Linked DNA regions of Homo sapiens: region 2 is linked to region 1. The links come from fine-mapping of genetic effects on gene expression. Tissue or cell type: nucleus accumbens. Region 1 holds a variant in brackets; the other region holds the start of a gene. All regions are shown on one strand. Distances are between the middles of the regions.

Region 1 (7,805 bases):
TACTTTCCAATCTATACTAATGTCCTAACAGATAGGATATCTCCCAATGATATATGATGGCAACAGTGATTGATGCATGGAGCAAAATGCAGGGCACTCTACCTTGAAAATGGTACTGTAATGCTATAGATGTAGAGTTAGTTAACAATTGTAACCTAAACAGATATATATCCTTAACACCAATAATTTCACTTCTACACATAAGCCATTTGAGAAAGGAGATTCTGTCTCCATGTCTCCCAAAATGCCTACCACAGTGGTAAAAAAGATAAATATGTAATAACTGGTTATCTGTTAAAATTGAGTAAAATTTTTGAGGAGGCACAGACAGGAACCTACTTCTTTCTTGGGTATTGCAATTTTCTCTTCCCACCATTTTCTATTACTGTAATCATAGTCATCTTTATTACTTGCTTAGAATATGTGACTGTTATGTTATCATTGCAGAGACCTTTTCCTTATTACCAATCTTCTTTTAAAGCATTACATGGAGGAACATGAACAGTCTGAGCATTCAAAGTTCAAGATTTCAAGACAATCAGTTCTGTTTGCCTGATCTACAGGATGAAGGTAACAATAAGAGAAAGTGATCATAATAGTCAATATTTAATACATATTTAATATATATATTTTTAGATTTAACAACTGGTTAAATCTATTAACCATATATCATCTAACCATTTCTATACCTTCCTATCACTCTTCTTTTCCTATTCTCTCTTAATTCCAATTTTCCTACAACACACACACTCATATACACATACGCACACATGCACCCACTATCCATAAGACCATCACGTCTGGGGATTTTGCACATACAGAGCCTAATAAAATTCAGCAACAAAGATCATTCAAATTCATAACTCAAAAATTATCAGGTACAGAAATACATGAACTGAGGTGAAGAAAAGCCAAAATACTGGGAGAAGTAGAATATCTTTCACAAAAGACCTTCTAGGAAGATCATATGGTACTGTTCTGCAAATCTTTCCTTTTACAACATTGAATGTTTTAATGTGAGCTTTGCAGATTCAGTTTCAAATCTTATCACTAATCCTGCCCTTAAGCAAAGCTGTAAAGAAGGTGAAATTAATTTTATACATTTCCTATTCTGCATTCTGTCATCCTCATCTTCCTTTGAGGGTCTAACAACTTCCTACCACTTTCTGCTTGTGCCCATTACAACCCAGATTTTCATCTTTTGTACCTGGAACAGGCCTGGCCTTCCACAATGCTCTATGTGCTATGAAAGTCAGTTTCTGCTATTATCATTGTGTTCTATTATTTCATGTATTTTCTAATAGCCTTAAAGATTACTTTGAATAGGCCTGGAATCTCTAACACAATTAAATACTATAGCAGGCATATAGTATTACCAAGGAAAGTAAAGCAAGATATAGAACAAATTGAATGATGAAAACTGAGACAAACTGGAGACAGGGACCATGTCCAAAATGGACATCCATTATTCAACTGTAGCCTCATGTTATCATGTGGGAATGAAGGCCTAGTGTTGTAAGATTTTAGATTTTTCAAGAGGAGCCAGAAATTTGTACCTTCATACAAAAATTTCAATATTTGTAAAACACCATAAAAGTGAAAAAAATACCTACAAATCAGAATTTAGACTATGTTGACATTAACTTGCTACCTCTGTGATAAGCGATTTTAGAATAAGATTTTATTCTTGCTTAATTCTTCTCTTCAGAGATACCTAGTGTAGTAGGAGAATCTAACACTTAAAAACAGGTCAGGTATGGTGTCTCACACCTATAATCCCAGCACTTTTGGAGGACAAGGTGGGTGGATTGCTTGAGCCTAGGAGTTTGAGAGCAGCCTGGGCAACAGAATGAGACCCTGTCTCTACAAAAAATACAGAAATTAGTCAGCTGTAGTGGCCTACGCCTGTACTCCCAGCCATTTAGGATGCTGAGGTGGGAGAACACTTGAGCCCAGGAGGTCAAGTCTGCAGTGAGCCATGATCATGCTACTGCACTCCAGGCTGGGCAAGAGAGCAAGATCCTGTCTCATATAATAATAATAATAGTAATAATAATAACAATTTTGTGATGGGTGATAAATATCATAGGGGCAAAATGTCATGGGAGCACAGAGATGGGAGAGGGGACTTTCATAAGCCTAGAATGTTCTCAAGGAGTATGTCTCAGAGAATATGAATCTCAAATGAAAGTAGGCCTTTACCAGAGAGAGAGAAAATAAAGAGTATTCCAGAGAGTTGTGTGTGGGAAGATGCAGACATAAGAAACAGCAGCATTTACTTGGGGAAAAAATAGTTTAGGTTCTGTTCCCAGATAAGTGGAATTATATCAGATACAGTTTTTAAGGAGAGTCTATTTGGGGCAGGAGGGCCTCTTGAGTTCTTATTAATAGTTTTAAAATGTGAACACACCTTACTGCACATTAAGCACATGTACCCCAGAACTTAAAGTATAATAAAAAAAAATTTTAAAAAAAGAAAAAAAATGTGAACACACCTCTATTTCTCTCTCCAGGTAATTTTAACATGACCTTGCTACTCCCTTGGATGAAAGGATCATCACGAAGTTTTACAACAAACTTTATGGTTATGGAAGTTCTATATTTACATTTGGAAGATGACAAAGTTGCCAGTAGCAGATATTTTAATTAAAAATATTTTCCTTACTGTTCCAATATCTCTAATGTTTTTAAAAGTAGATTTATCTTACTTACAGGTTCATATGAGATAATTGAAAACATGGTGATCTCAGATACAGCAGCACACATGTGAGGAAACGTAGTAGTCAGTCACATTGGAATACCTTCAAAATCTTCAGTAAAATATGGGTGACGTTGACGAATAGTTCATTCTCCCTATGGAGCTGTCCACAGAGGCTAAAAATAGCTATAAATAGAAGAATCCAGATAAAATCATGTTGTATCATGTGTCATATCAATAGTAATATATACAAATGAAAAATATTGTGAAAATAGTAGAGGTAGAGGCCAGATATGTTAATAAAGGGGTTTAGAGATAAAAGCATGGATAAATAAATATGGCATAGGTATTTTGAGCCAGGCTTTTCAATGATCATAACATATTCTATATTTATATAGTCACATATTTTTGCATATATACAACCTATTCACATTCAAAGAAGTTGT[T/A]GCAAGAGTGTACAAAAATGTCACTAAGAAAAACAAGATTTATCAGGTAATTGCAGTGTTCGCCATTACTTTTAATTACTTCTAATGGCAAGCACTGCAATCCCTTTTGCACCAACCTAATATGTGGCCTCAGGTAATATGCCTGTAATTAGCTTGTTGGTTTTATTTGAAAACAACTATTGTGTAGCAATTGGAAAGTCATTAGCAGGACTCTTTTGCCACATTCATTTTATGCAGGATAACCTTGAGTCCACTCTGTTATATACCTATTTGCAAGAAAAGTCAGTTTAGTTCATCTGTTTCTTTTACCCTGTTCCCCCACCATGTTCTTATTTTATGAATGTATTTTGAGTGTGTTTAATTAACCTGTAGATTTCTATTTTGTGTGGATTTTTTTCATGGCATTTTCAGCTGATACGTTGATTAAATTTATTCATATTCTTAACCAAATCCAAGCATGCTGATCAATATTTTCTGAACAGAATTCAGTGTGAAACACCAGATAAGAGGAGCAAATGCACACTCATTGATGTTTCTCTGCAGTGAAAATTATTTTAAGATGTGGAATGATTTGGGTATGTGGATGTGTGTCTCTTGAGATATGATGGTATAATCAATATGTCCCACTGAAGACAAAGTCCTAAGGCTAAATGGTTTCAGCTGGGCTGTGAAGGAAAGCAAGTGAGAGTATCATTATTTTGAGGAAAATATATGTGATTTTATCTAGATAATGACAGTTTGCACTGTAGCAACATTCCTAGATGAAATCTCTGTACACCAGAGGTTTCATCTAAAACTTCATCTTTACTTATATACTTAGGTGAGGGTGAGGCAAGGGTTAGGTGGCCCACTAGAAAGAAACTTCTGTGAGATTCTTCATTATGCATCTATTATTCTAGGATTGTCTCACTTGTTGAGTTCCATAGTTTTTATTTATTCATAAATGTCAGGAACAGGAACAACAAAGCCAGATTCAAAGAGCCTAACAAGGAAGAAGATAAAACAGCAAAAGTTGAAAATGAAATGTAGATGATGACACATAAAATTAAGGCATCACTGATTCATTTTAAAAATAATTTTTAAAAAGTCTTTCTTTTGTGAAAATCCAAAGAAAAAGCTCCCGGATAGAGTAGGGGGAAGAAAATGGCATTTTCTTGGTATCCTTCATCTCAGCCAAGAAAAAAATCTTATGTTAAAAATGAGTGGTTGCATTAAAAACTTTTTTTTTCTGAGTCTTTAATATCATCAGAATAAATTATCCTTCTGTATCAAATTCAAATGAAATTTATTTGGAGCATTTAATGTAGGTGATATGGCTTGGCTCTGTGTCCCTATGCAAATCTCATGTTGAATTGTAACTCCCAGTTTTGGGGAGGAACCCAGAGGTAGGAGGTGATTAGATCATGGGGGTGGATTTCCCCCATGCTGTTCTCATGATAGTGAGTTCTCACAAGATCTGATGGTTTAAAAATATGTGGTACTTTCTCTTTCTCTCTCTCTCTCTCTCACTACGATGTGAAGAAGGTGCTTGTTTCCCCTTTGCCTTCCACCATGATTCTAAGTTTCCCGAGGTCTCGCAGTCATGCTTCCTGTTAAGCCTGTGGAATTGTGAGTCAATTAAACTTCTCTTCTTCATAAACAGTCTTAGGTAATTCTTTATAGCAATCTGAGAATGAACTAATACAGTAGGACTATCACTTTAAAATACATAAGAGACAGAGAATTATGTAGTTTGAACTAATTTTTGCAGATGTGAGGTGTTCTTTCCTCTTTTAATTACTAGACAAAACATTTGAATGACTCCTAAATGTATTCAGATGGATGAAATCACTTTTCCACCAACCCATCCCCAAGGCCATCATGAACTACCAGTTAAGAAAATCAAATTCTGTGGATTTCTATTCTTTTAGCTTTTTAATTCTATAATTTATACTCTAGTCCAGTATTTGCAGCTTTTTGGGTTGTGTATATTTTGGGGGCAATTTTACTTACGGATAAGGAAATGGAGGCATGAGAACTTTATCAATTATTCTAATTTTAAAGTGCAAGTTGCATTGTAAACAGATCTCAAAGTACTGTGTGAAGTAGATTGGAGTCACAAGTAGTACTATTAAAATTGTGAATAGCCTGATATTGCAGCTGCAGTTGAAGGTTGAACAAGTAATTGTGAATGTGATATAAAATGAGACTGATCAGCTAATAACCAGAGTCATTGTTTTAAGTTCAATGTCAAAGTCACTTCAGACATGTAGCACAATCTTTTGAACAGACTTGAGTGTGTAATAAGTGGAATAAATGTTTACCTAATAATTTACCTCCGCAATGTAAGTTATTCTAAGGTATGAAATGTTCCTTGAGCATTTACATGTTCTCCGAGGTTGTGATGGAATAATTTATTGATTCTGTTGAAGATCAATTGCTAAAGCTGCATAATTTCAGCTAGAAATGAAGGAAAGGAAGAAGCAATTGCATCATGCTTAGAAAGGCAAATGTGAGTTACATTGAGTAATAATGGCTTACACATTCCAATGAAACCTCTGTGGCCCAGCATCTCCTAAAGTAAATAAATGCCTTGAAGAAAGTAAGATATAAACCTAAATGGCCTGCTAAGCAAGCTCTGATCTAAGGCCTTTCATTTTGTATATCTATTATCCCAGGCATGTATCTTACTAACAGGACTGTAAGTATTGATTTATGCATAAGGTGTCAGACATAGGAGCTCACATCTTTGGTCTGAATATGGTTTTTAATAGTGTATCTATCATGGCAGCTTTTTAAATTTAAGTTCCTTCAGGATATAGAAAACCTTTGAAGAAAAAAAAAGTGACACGTGGAGAAATTGTTTTCTTCTCATTTCCAAGGATTGACATTTCTTTCTTTCTTTCTTTCCTTCCTTCCTTCCATCTTCCTTCCTTTCTTTCTTTTTGCTTTTTTTTTTTTTTGGATGCAGATTCTCACTCTGTCACCCAGGCTGGAGTGCAGTGGTATGATCATAGCTCTCCACAGCCTTGACCTCCTGGGTTCAAGGAATCATTCCCACCTCAACCTCCAGAGTAGCTGGGACCACAGGCACATGCTACCATGCCCAGATTGCCATTTTTTAATGCAATATTTATAAAAAGTGTTTTCCAAGTCTATAATCTATGTGATATAAATGGCATTTATTCACTTTATAATCCACAAATATCATTTTTTCTCATTTGAGAAAATCGATAATTATGAACATTGTGGCCAAATAATTGGCACCATGCTATTTACATTTGCTGTCTCTAAGTTTTATTACCTATTTTTATTTATTGATCCTGATTATTTTATTTAATGATTCTTCTATACTTAATGAGATGCCTTCTAGTTCTAATATTCTAGATCTGGATAAACAAATATTAATCATATTCACATCTTTTATAATTTTATAAACTTTGATTCTTCCAACCCTACATTCACCCTTACCTCTAAGTTTTTGTCTCTTTAAATCACATATCTTAAAAAGCCCATTCATCTTTGTATGGTTGTTCTTTTCTGGATCAGTTTCTATACTGTTATTTCTTTCTTAAGGTATGGCATACAGAACTGCATTCAGTACATTAATTTCAATAAATTATATTTTACTCAAGGATAAGAATAAACTTACTAGCTAATTTTCCTTTTAACTACATTCTCAATAATAAGCCTTATTGTTCTGTTGGCCTCATGTTTTTCAGAAAATATTCTTAGGAATGATTCTACAAGATGAATGCATTTTCCTCGCAGTATAGAAAGTATGTATGTGGGTATTGTGTGTGTGTGTAATTTTTATTTTTCAAATGCATTATTATACTAGTTCATTCAGATACTTAGCTTCTACTCATATGCCAATTTATACGTAAGACTCAGTTGTAGCCTATACTCCTCCACCAGACATTTCACTTTCTTTAAATATTTAGTGCTATTTGAAAGTCATGAAGTTTCCCTGCTGACTTTCTTTCATAGTGAAGTTGTTCAGGTAGGTCTTGGCAGGCCACCAAGTAGGTTAAATCTTATGTATTAGTCAGGGTTCTCCAGAGAAACAAAACCAATTGAATATATAGAAAGAAAGAGTGATTTATGGTAAGGAATTGGCTCACATGATTATAGATGTTGGCAAACCCAAAATCTGCAGAGCCAATGTCCCAGTTGGTGACTGAAATTGGAAAGCTGCTGTAGAACCAGGAAGAGCTGATGTTCCAGTTTGAGGACCATCAGGCAGGAGAATTCTCTCACTCAAGAAATTGTCAGCCTTTTCTTCTATGTAGGCCTTCAACTGATTGGATGAGGCCCACCCACACTATGGAGGGCAATCTGCTTTACTCTAATGACTTAAATGTTAATCTCATTTAAAAATACTCTCACAGAACCACCCAGAATAATGTTTGTCCAACTATCTGGGCACCTGTGGCCACTGTCACATCATGGTATCTGTTTCTCATTTTTGAAAGGAGCCTATCTCTCCCTAGCCTTTGTTTTTCTGTCTATGAGTCATTCCCTCTTTAAAGAATTTGTTCTTCCCACTTCATACTGATCAACTGCTTTTAATACCCTTAATTACATAATTTTGTATAATTTAAATTCTGAATAAATTGTATTAACTGTTTCTCATATAAATAATCTGTCAAATAATTCTAAAGTTAATAGAAACAATTTCC
Region 2 (7,805 bases), 910 kb before region 1:
TGAGTTTATGTTTCACTAATTCTCTTAAAACTTTATTACAGCCACCATGTTTAAGGCTGGCTATAGAAGCAATCAAACTGCCGGGAACAATTTCATGGTTCTTCATGCCCATTTCAACCTGAAATTAAAGGAATCATTATATAATCATAATCAACACAAAGCCTTGTCTATCAAAACCCTGCGAAATTAACTTCTCCTTGAAGCTTTCCTGACTATGCAGTTCTCCAACTAATTCTGAGACATAATCACTTCCGTCTCTTGAAAATATTTTTAATTGCAATTTGAAATCTAATCATTGATATTTGTATTGGCTTTCCATTTCAAGAGTAGGAACTGTGAGTGCTAGACATACTGATGACATTTGGTCAATGCTAAAATACTTGATGACACCTAAACATTTGTCTTTAAAAACTACAGATATGCCAGATATTTATTAAGCAGGTATTTAATGAGAAAGTACTACATGTAGGCATCGTAGAGGATATATATATATATATGAATGATAGACTGGATAAAGAAAATGTGGCACATATACACCATGGAATACTATGCAGCCATAAAAAAGGATGAGTTCATGCCTTTTGCAGGGACATGGGTGAAGCTGGAAACCATCATTCTCAGAAAACTAACACAAGAGCAGAAAACCAAACACCACATTTTCTCACTCATAAGTGGGAGTTGAACAGTAAGAATACGTGGACACAGAAAGGGGAACATCACACACTGGGGCCTGTCGGGGGGTGGGGGGCTAGGGGAGGGATAGCATTAGGAGAAATACCTAATGTAGATGGGATGGGTTGATGGGTACAGCAAACCACTATAGCATGTGTATACCTATGTAACAAACCTGCACGTTCTGCACATGTACCCCAGAACTTAAAAGTATTTTATATATATATATAATATATATATATAAAATATATATATATTATATATATATAATATATATATAATATATATATTATATATATATTTTTAAATTTATTCCTCAGAGGTAAAAAGCACATATATATATATCTCTATCCTACATGCTCTTCTGCATGTGTATATGTATATATATATATATGTATATATATATATATATATGTGCTTTTTACCTCTGAGAAATTTTTATCTCATGATGGAAATTTTAAAAAATGGTATACATCTAAGTTTATTAGAAGTTAAGAAGTGATAAGTGCTTAAAAAGGTAGCTCAGGGCAGAATAAGAATACTTCTAGCTGAGGGATCAGTTCCAAGGAAGATGCAAAACTAGAGACTGACTTTTAAAAGATGTGGGCATACAGAGAAAACAGACAAGGGGATATTAGTGAAAGAAAAAGATTTGAAAATGGCACATATGCAAGAAAGTACTGACCACAGAGAATAGCTGAGTACAGTAGCAGCTCAGATGGGATAGCATATAGAATTCATGCAAACGCGGCTGGAAGATACTTCTAGGATAGAGAAGGCATTAAAATGTAGACCAAATACTTTTATATTTTATCCTGATGAGAGCAGGAAGCTCTTGAAGATGTTTAGGCGTGGGAGACACACGAACAGGGTTATTTTAAGGACATTAATGTACCAGGAATATGCAAATTGGCTTAGAGATGGCAAAATCTGAGGGGGTACTCCGGAGAACTAAGACAGAAGTCCAGCTCAGAGGAAAGAGCCACCAGAACAGGGTAAGTGGTAGTGGTACTGGAAGGAAGGAATAAAAATCTTTAGGAAGTATTATGGGAGAGCTTGGCAATTAGATGTGGAAGGGTAAAGGGAACGGAAAGCCACAATTGGAAGTGATGAGGAAAAGCAAGTTTTAAGATTTTATTATTTTTTTTTTTTATAGAGCTTGGGAAAAGAGAAAGGGGGTAGAAAAAAATTGAATTTGGTTTGAGCACTGAGAGTCAAATAAAAATGTTTAAAGGAAAACTGGAGGCCAGGTGCAGTGGCTCACACCTGTAATCCCAGCACTTTGGGAGGCCAAGGTGGGTGGATCACGAGGTCAAGAGATCGAGACCATTCTGGCCAACATGGTGAAACCCCATCTCTACTAAAAATACAAAAATTAGCTGGGCGTGGTGGTGTGCGCCTATAGTCCCAGCTACTTGGGAGGCTGAGGCAGGAGAATCGCTTGAACCCAGAAGGTGAAGGTTGCAGTGAGCTGAGATTGTGCCACTGCACTCCAGCCTGGCAACAGAATAAGACTCCGTCTCAAAAAAAAAAAAAAAAGAAAGAGAGAAAATTAAATAGGAAAGGGGCCTATATTTAGGAATGAAGTTATAATTAGAAGGAAAAATTGTCAATTATTTTATAGAAGTGAGAGTTGAAGATGTGAAGTGGATGCTATCACTGAGCAGGAGATAATGGAAGAAAAGGAATGTTTGGGAGCAGAATTCTGGGGCAAGTTCATATTGAAAGCTAAGGGCAGCTAGTCAAACAATGATTATTGATATAGGAGGAGCCAAAGAAGTAAAAGGGAAGAGAGGCCCAAGAAAGGGTACCAACACTGGTGAGATTCAACTGAGACCGGAATGTCATATTTAATGACTAAGTCATTTCTTGGTGAACTTTACAAATAATTTAAATATTGCAGCGCCAATGTTTTGGAAGATAAATCTGGCATCATTTTGATGTCTCACCAAAACCTTAACTTTTAAATTTAACTTATTTTCCATGCTTTGTCTCTGCCTCCCCCGTCCTCTAACACTCTTACTTTTGACCCCTACTTCTGTCAGAGACACTAAGGAATGAGTGTGCTGAGAAAGCAGGAAAGGAAGGTATCTTTCCGAAGTGATAGTAGGTTTTCATAGAGAAAGTCCAGCTGATTAGAAGAATCTACATGAGAGGCAAAGTAAACATTGTCTTCCAAATTTCACACTGATTTTGCATTTGATAGTTTAATACTTAAGCGCTATTTAAGATTAATTTTAAAAATCCAAAACTTGAAGCCTTAACATAATGCAAGAACCAGTGTGACTCACATCGCATATCCTATTACATAATTACACAATATAGGTAGTCCTTATCATGGGGTTCACTCCTTACCAAAAGATAACGGCTCCTAAATAAATGTACAAATGTCTTGATCTATATATTAATTTCTGTGCCATAAGACTGAGGCCATAAAATCAGATTTTGTTACTCCCCTGATTAAAAACATTTAGTGGTTACCCCCACATTCTTTACCAAACCTCCAAGGCTCTGTAGTACATAATTTCTCACCTTTTCCGCTACATCTCCAACCATTAGTGTGCATCTCACTTTGCTCCAGCCACATTACATTGGCCTTTCCTCTCTTCAAAGACTTTTCTGTCTCAAGGCCTTTGCACTTACTACTGCTGTTTCCTCTGCCTCCAACTCTTTCCAAGGACTTCACTGGGCTGTCTCTTTCTCACACAGCTCCTATTATTCCCCCATTCATTCTTTCATTTAGTGAATATTTATTGATTGTCTACCAAAGGCCAATAACTTGTGCCCCTCCTCTCCACCAGATACATATACTTTCTATGCCATTATCCTTTATCATTTTCATAGCATTTATCCATTATCCTATTTTTCGTTTACTTGATGATCTGTGTCTCTCTCTCCACTTGTCTGTTTGAACAAGTGAACCTCCTAATGTTGCTACTAAAAAACCGACAAATATGTGTTGACTGAATGAATCAGAAAGACTGCTATGCGACTGAGTCTGTTAGTAGGGAAGTCAATATTATCAAATCTCGGGGGGGGGGGGGGGCTTAAACCTTTCACAGCTGGTCGGAAGCTCAGGATCAGAGAAGTTTCCAGGCCACAGAGATGCAAGCGTTTCTCTTCAGCGCAAAGCGAATAGCAGCAGAAAAGAAAACAATTATTAGAAGACGGGACCTTTGCTCTATCTGGGGGAAGGTAAGCTCCCAAACAAAACCTTTTTAAAAATCCGACTTTCTGAATGCTCTCTTCTCCATTCCCAGCTTCTGCCACGTCCCGGGTCCCAGAGTGTGCCTGCTCAGATCCCAGAAAACTTGCAGGAACAGGAAGAGGTCACACAGTGTTAAGGGGAAGGGAGAACAGGAACGGCGGGTTTCTTACCGCGGTCAAGACCCTGAAGTCATCTCGGCTCATGTAACGCAACTTGGCCACATTCACTTTCCCCATGGCGGCCCCAGTCCGAACCCAGATGCCTCTCCGACGACAGCCGCAAAGCGTAAGGCAGGTCGTTATTCCAGCCTCTAAGCGCTTTACAGCGCCAGATGGCTCGCGCACGCGCTGCGTCTTAGTATAGGTCCTTGTTAATAGTTAGAAGTGCTGTTCTCATTGATATAGGAAAATAAAACTACTTGTATGTCTTATGAAACACATAGTATGTAACAAGTGAACGTTTTATTTTTGTGTAATTTTTGCGTTGTGACTGAGTTGGCGGAGTGTAGATATTCTCTACAATGTGCCTTTTTTTTTCCATATCTGTCAGGACTTGCTGCCTCAATGACACGTTCCGCCTCAGAGAGCAAAGTGGTTACTTAATGGGAGGAGCAAATTTTTCCCGCAAACAACTTCTACTCTAGGCAAAGTGACTTCCAACAAGACAGGGGTAAAAGAACCTGAGCTAGAGTCCAGACAACCAAATCTGTTAAAGGTAAAGTGGACTGTAATCACACAAGCACGCCCTCTACTCCTAATTGCGCCTGCTCCGGCAGCTCCGGAGGGCGTGGTTAATGGAACTCATGCGCTTGCTCAGTACTTCTCTTAGGTTGGTCTAGGAGGCTTCGAAGTGCGCCTGCGCTGGTTGGGGTGGGAGTTTAAGGTGACACGTGGAGAGCGCGGCGGACGTCCTTACCTCCAGAGGAAGTGGGGATTTTGATAGTTCGGGCTGACCTACGCGGGTAGGACTTCGAGGGCCCAGGAGCGATTTAAGGATTTTAGAATAGTTACCCATACTGGCTCTGCAACTCCTCGATATTCAAGCCTTTGTCTGCTTTTTACTTGAATGCAGCATGTCTTTGATTAACCATCTTCAACCAATGAACATCTCCATTTAAACGGAATTTTTCTTTCTGTACTTACATAAGAAGGCATAGAAATGAATTTTTTTTTTATTTTTGAGACAGAGCCCGGCTCTGTCACCCAGACTGAAGTACAGGGGCGCGATCTTGGCTCACTGCAACCTCTGCCCTCTAGGTTCAAGGGATTCTTCTCCCTCAGCCTCCTAAGTAGCTGGGATTATAGGCTCACACCACCACGCCCTGCTAATATTTTTATTTTTAGTAGAGATGGGGTTTCGCCCTGTTGACCAGACTGGTTTCAAACTCCTGGCCTCAGGTGATCCGCCCCCCTCAGTCTCCCAAAGTGCTGGGATTACAGGCATAAGCCACCGCGCCTGGGCGAAAAGTTTTTAAAAAAACCAAGTGACTAACTTTATTTGTACAAATTTATGGGGTACGTGAGAAATTTTGTTACAAGTATTTAGGGTGTCTGTCATCCAAATACAATATATTTTTGTGTAACTATAGTTACCCTACTCTACTATCAAGCAGTGAATATATTCCTTCTATCTGACTCCATGTTTGTAACCTTTAACCTACTCTCTTCATCCTGTTCCCACTCCCCTCATCTTTCCCAGTCTGTTATCTGTCTTTCCACTCTCTACCTTAATGTGATCAAATTTTTTAGCTTCCACATATAAGTAAGAGCGTGTGATATTTGTCTTTTTGTTCCTGGCTTATTTCCCTTAAGATAATGACCTCCAGCTCCATCCACGTTACTGCAAATGGCAAGATTTCATTTTTTATGTCTGAATAGTACTCCATTGTGTATATATACCACATTTTCTTTATCCATTCATCTGTTGATGGACACTTAGGTTGATTCCATAGCTTTGCTATTGTGAATAGTGCTGCGATAAACATGCAAGTGTAGGTATCCCTTTGATATACTGATTTCTTTCCTCTGGGTAGATACCCAATAGTGGGATTGCTGGATTGAATAATTCTATTTTTAATTTTTTGAGAAATCTCCATATACTTTTCCACAGTGGCTGTACTAATTTACATTCTCATCAACAGTGTATAAGAGTTCTCTTTTCTCCGCATCTTCACCAACATCCATTATTTTTTGTCTTTTTAACAGTAGCCATTTGGACTGGGGTAAGATAATATCTCATTATGGCTTTGATTTTCATTTCTTATATACTTAGTGATGTTGAGCAATTTTTCATGTACCTGTTGGCCATTTGTATGCAAATAACTAACTTCTAGAGCAAGAATGGAATGGGAAACAAGCCATTTATGTTTCTACTCCGAATCCAGCACTTTAGCAAATGTTCCTAATCTATTATGGTGTAATTCTTACATTATTTCTCAACATTGCCTCAGACAGCCACCATTAACTGAGTGGAATTGACTAGAATTGCTATTGGTGTTCTGAAGTATGCCTTACGGTTAATCACATTAAGTCCAAATCTCTTATATTTGGAATATTACTTTTAAAATAAAATCATTTTAATAATCAGAACTTTGAAGAGTAAAAGTAAGTGATTGAAGTGCAGTTTGGTATTCTGTTCTACTCCCTCATACCATGCTTAGTGATGAGTAAAACAAAACATGTACAGTATTATTCGTTAATGCATTCACTATTCATCAAACATATATGCCATACTTTTTTACTAGGTCCTGGGGAATCAATCTCAACCCTCATACCTGTGTTGGAGGGTGAAGAGTAGAAAAATAGAGAGTAGTGTGACACAGATGTGCAAAAGGTGTATCATGTTGGTGTTTCCTCCTCCCTTACCTCCCCTGCCCTGACCCTGTCCTTACAAGTTGCAGAGAACCTTAACTGTCTACAGATCAAAGTGCACGTTTAGACTGGCATTCAGGATTGTCAACAATCTGTATCACCATCTTCAAGCAGTTTGTACTCTTGTCTAATTGAACTACTTTTGTTTTCCCTGTATAACTCCCTTAAATTTCTTTTTTACTAAGTTTTCCCTTCACCTGTAATACTTTTCCCTCCACCTGTAATATTACCTCTTCCCTACTGTTTTTCTTCTTTTTCAATCACAATATATGTAAATCTTATCTACCATTAAAATTCTATTCACCACATAAGGTTTTTCTTTATTATTCCTATTTATCTCTATATTAATTTTCTCTTGCTGCTGTTAACATATTACCGCAAACTTTGACGACTTAAAACAATAGAACTTTATTCTCTTACAGTTCAGGACGCTGGAAATAAGAGATTATTTTTACTGGGTCAAAATCAACGTGTTGACAGGACCATGTTCCCCCAAGAGGGGCTCTAGTGGAGAATTTGTTCCTTGCCTTTTGCAGCTCCTACTGGGATTTGGTGACTGCTGGCATTCTTTTGGCTTGTGGCACATCACTCCAGTCTCTGTCTCCATGCTTACGTTATTGCCTTCTCTACTCGTGAGTGTGTGTGTTTCCTTCTGTCTCTGTCTTATACAAATACATGTAATTGCACTTAGGATCCACTCAGACCCTTAATAACATCTGTAAAATATTTTTTTCCATATAGGATAAATTCTTAGGTTCTAGAAATTAGTATGTGGATATTTTTGGATGGGTCATCATTCAACCTCTCACACTCTCAAAGGGAAGTAAGTGCTCCTCCCTCTAATCTTCTGTAGCCTGTTGTCTTTAATGATTCTGGCCACTTTTTAACCTCTCCTGCTTGCCCATAGGTTAGGTTAATTACAGAAAAAGTTGAATGTGGAGACTGAATTTAAAGCATAGATTCAAGAAAAAGAAATTTTGTATATTTACATTTAAGATATTATACTAGCTAAAACTCAGAAAAAATTATGATAGATTTTACTGCATATGGGTGGT

The links. PIP is the estimated chance that this variant, and not a neighbour inherited with it, causes the effect.
Region 2: it holds the start of RIOK2, and the variant in region 1 is fine-mapped to the expression of RIOK2 in nucleus accumbens (GTEx, PIP 0.94).

What each region holds. Positions count from the first base shown.
Region 1 is chr5:98,090,688-98,098,492 of GRCh38, forward strand. LINC01846 (long intergenic non-protein coding RNA 1846) reads right to left here. Exons shown (of 5, transcript NR_146477.1): 4 at 2,713-2,884. Among named protein-coding and RNA genes, the nearest start is that of LINC01846, 67 kb to the right of the region's middle. The variant T/A (reference allele first, on the strand shown) is at 3,145.
Region 2 is chr5:97,179,076-97,186,880 of GRCh38, forward strand. RIOK2 (RIO kinase 2) reads right to left here and starts at 4,172. Exons shown (of 10, transcript NM_018343.3): 1 at 4,051-4,172; 2 at 1-118. The coding sequence starts at 4,116.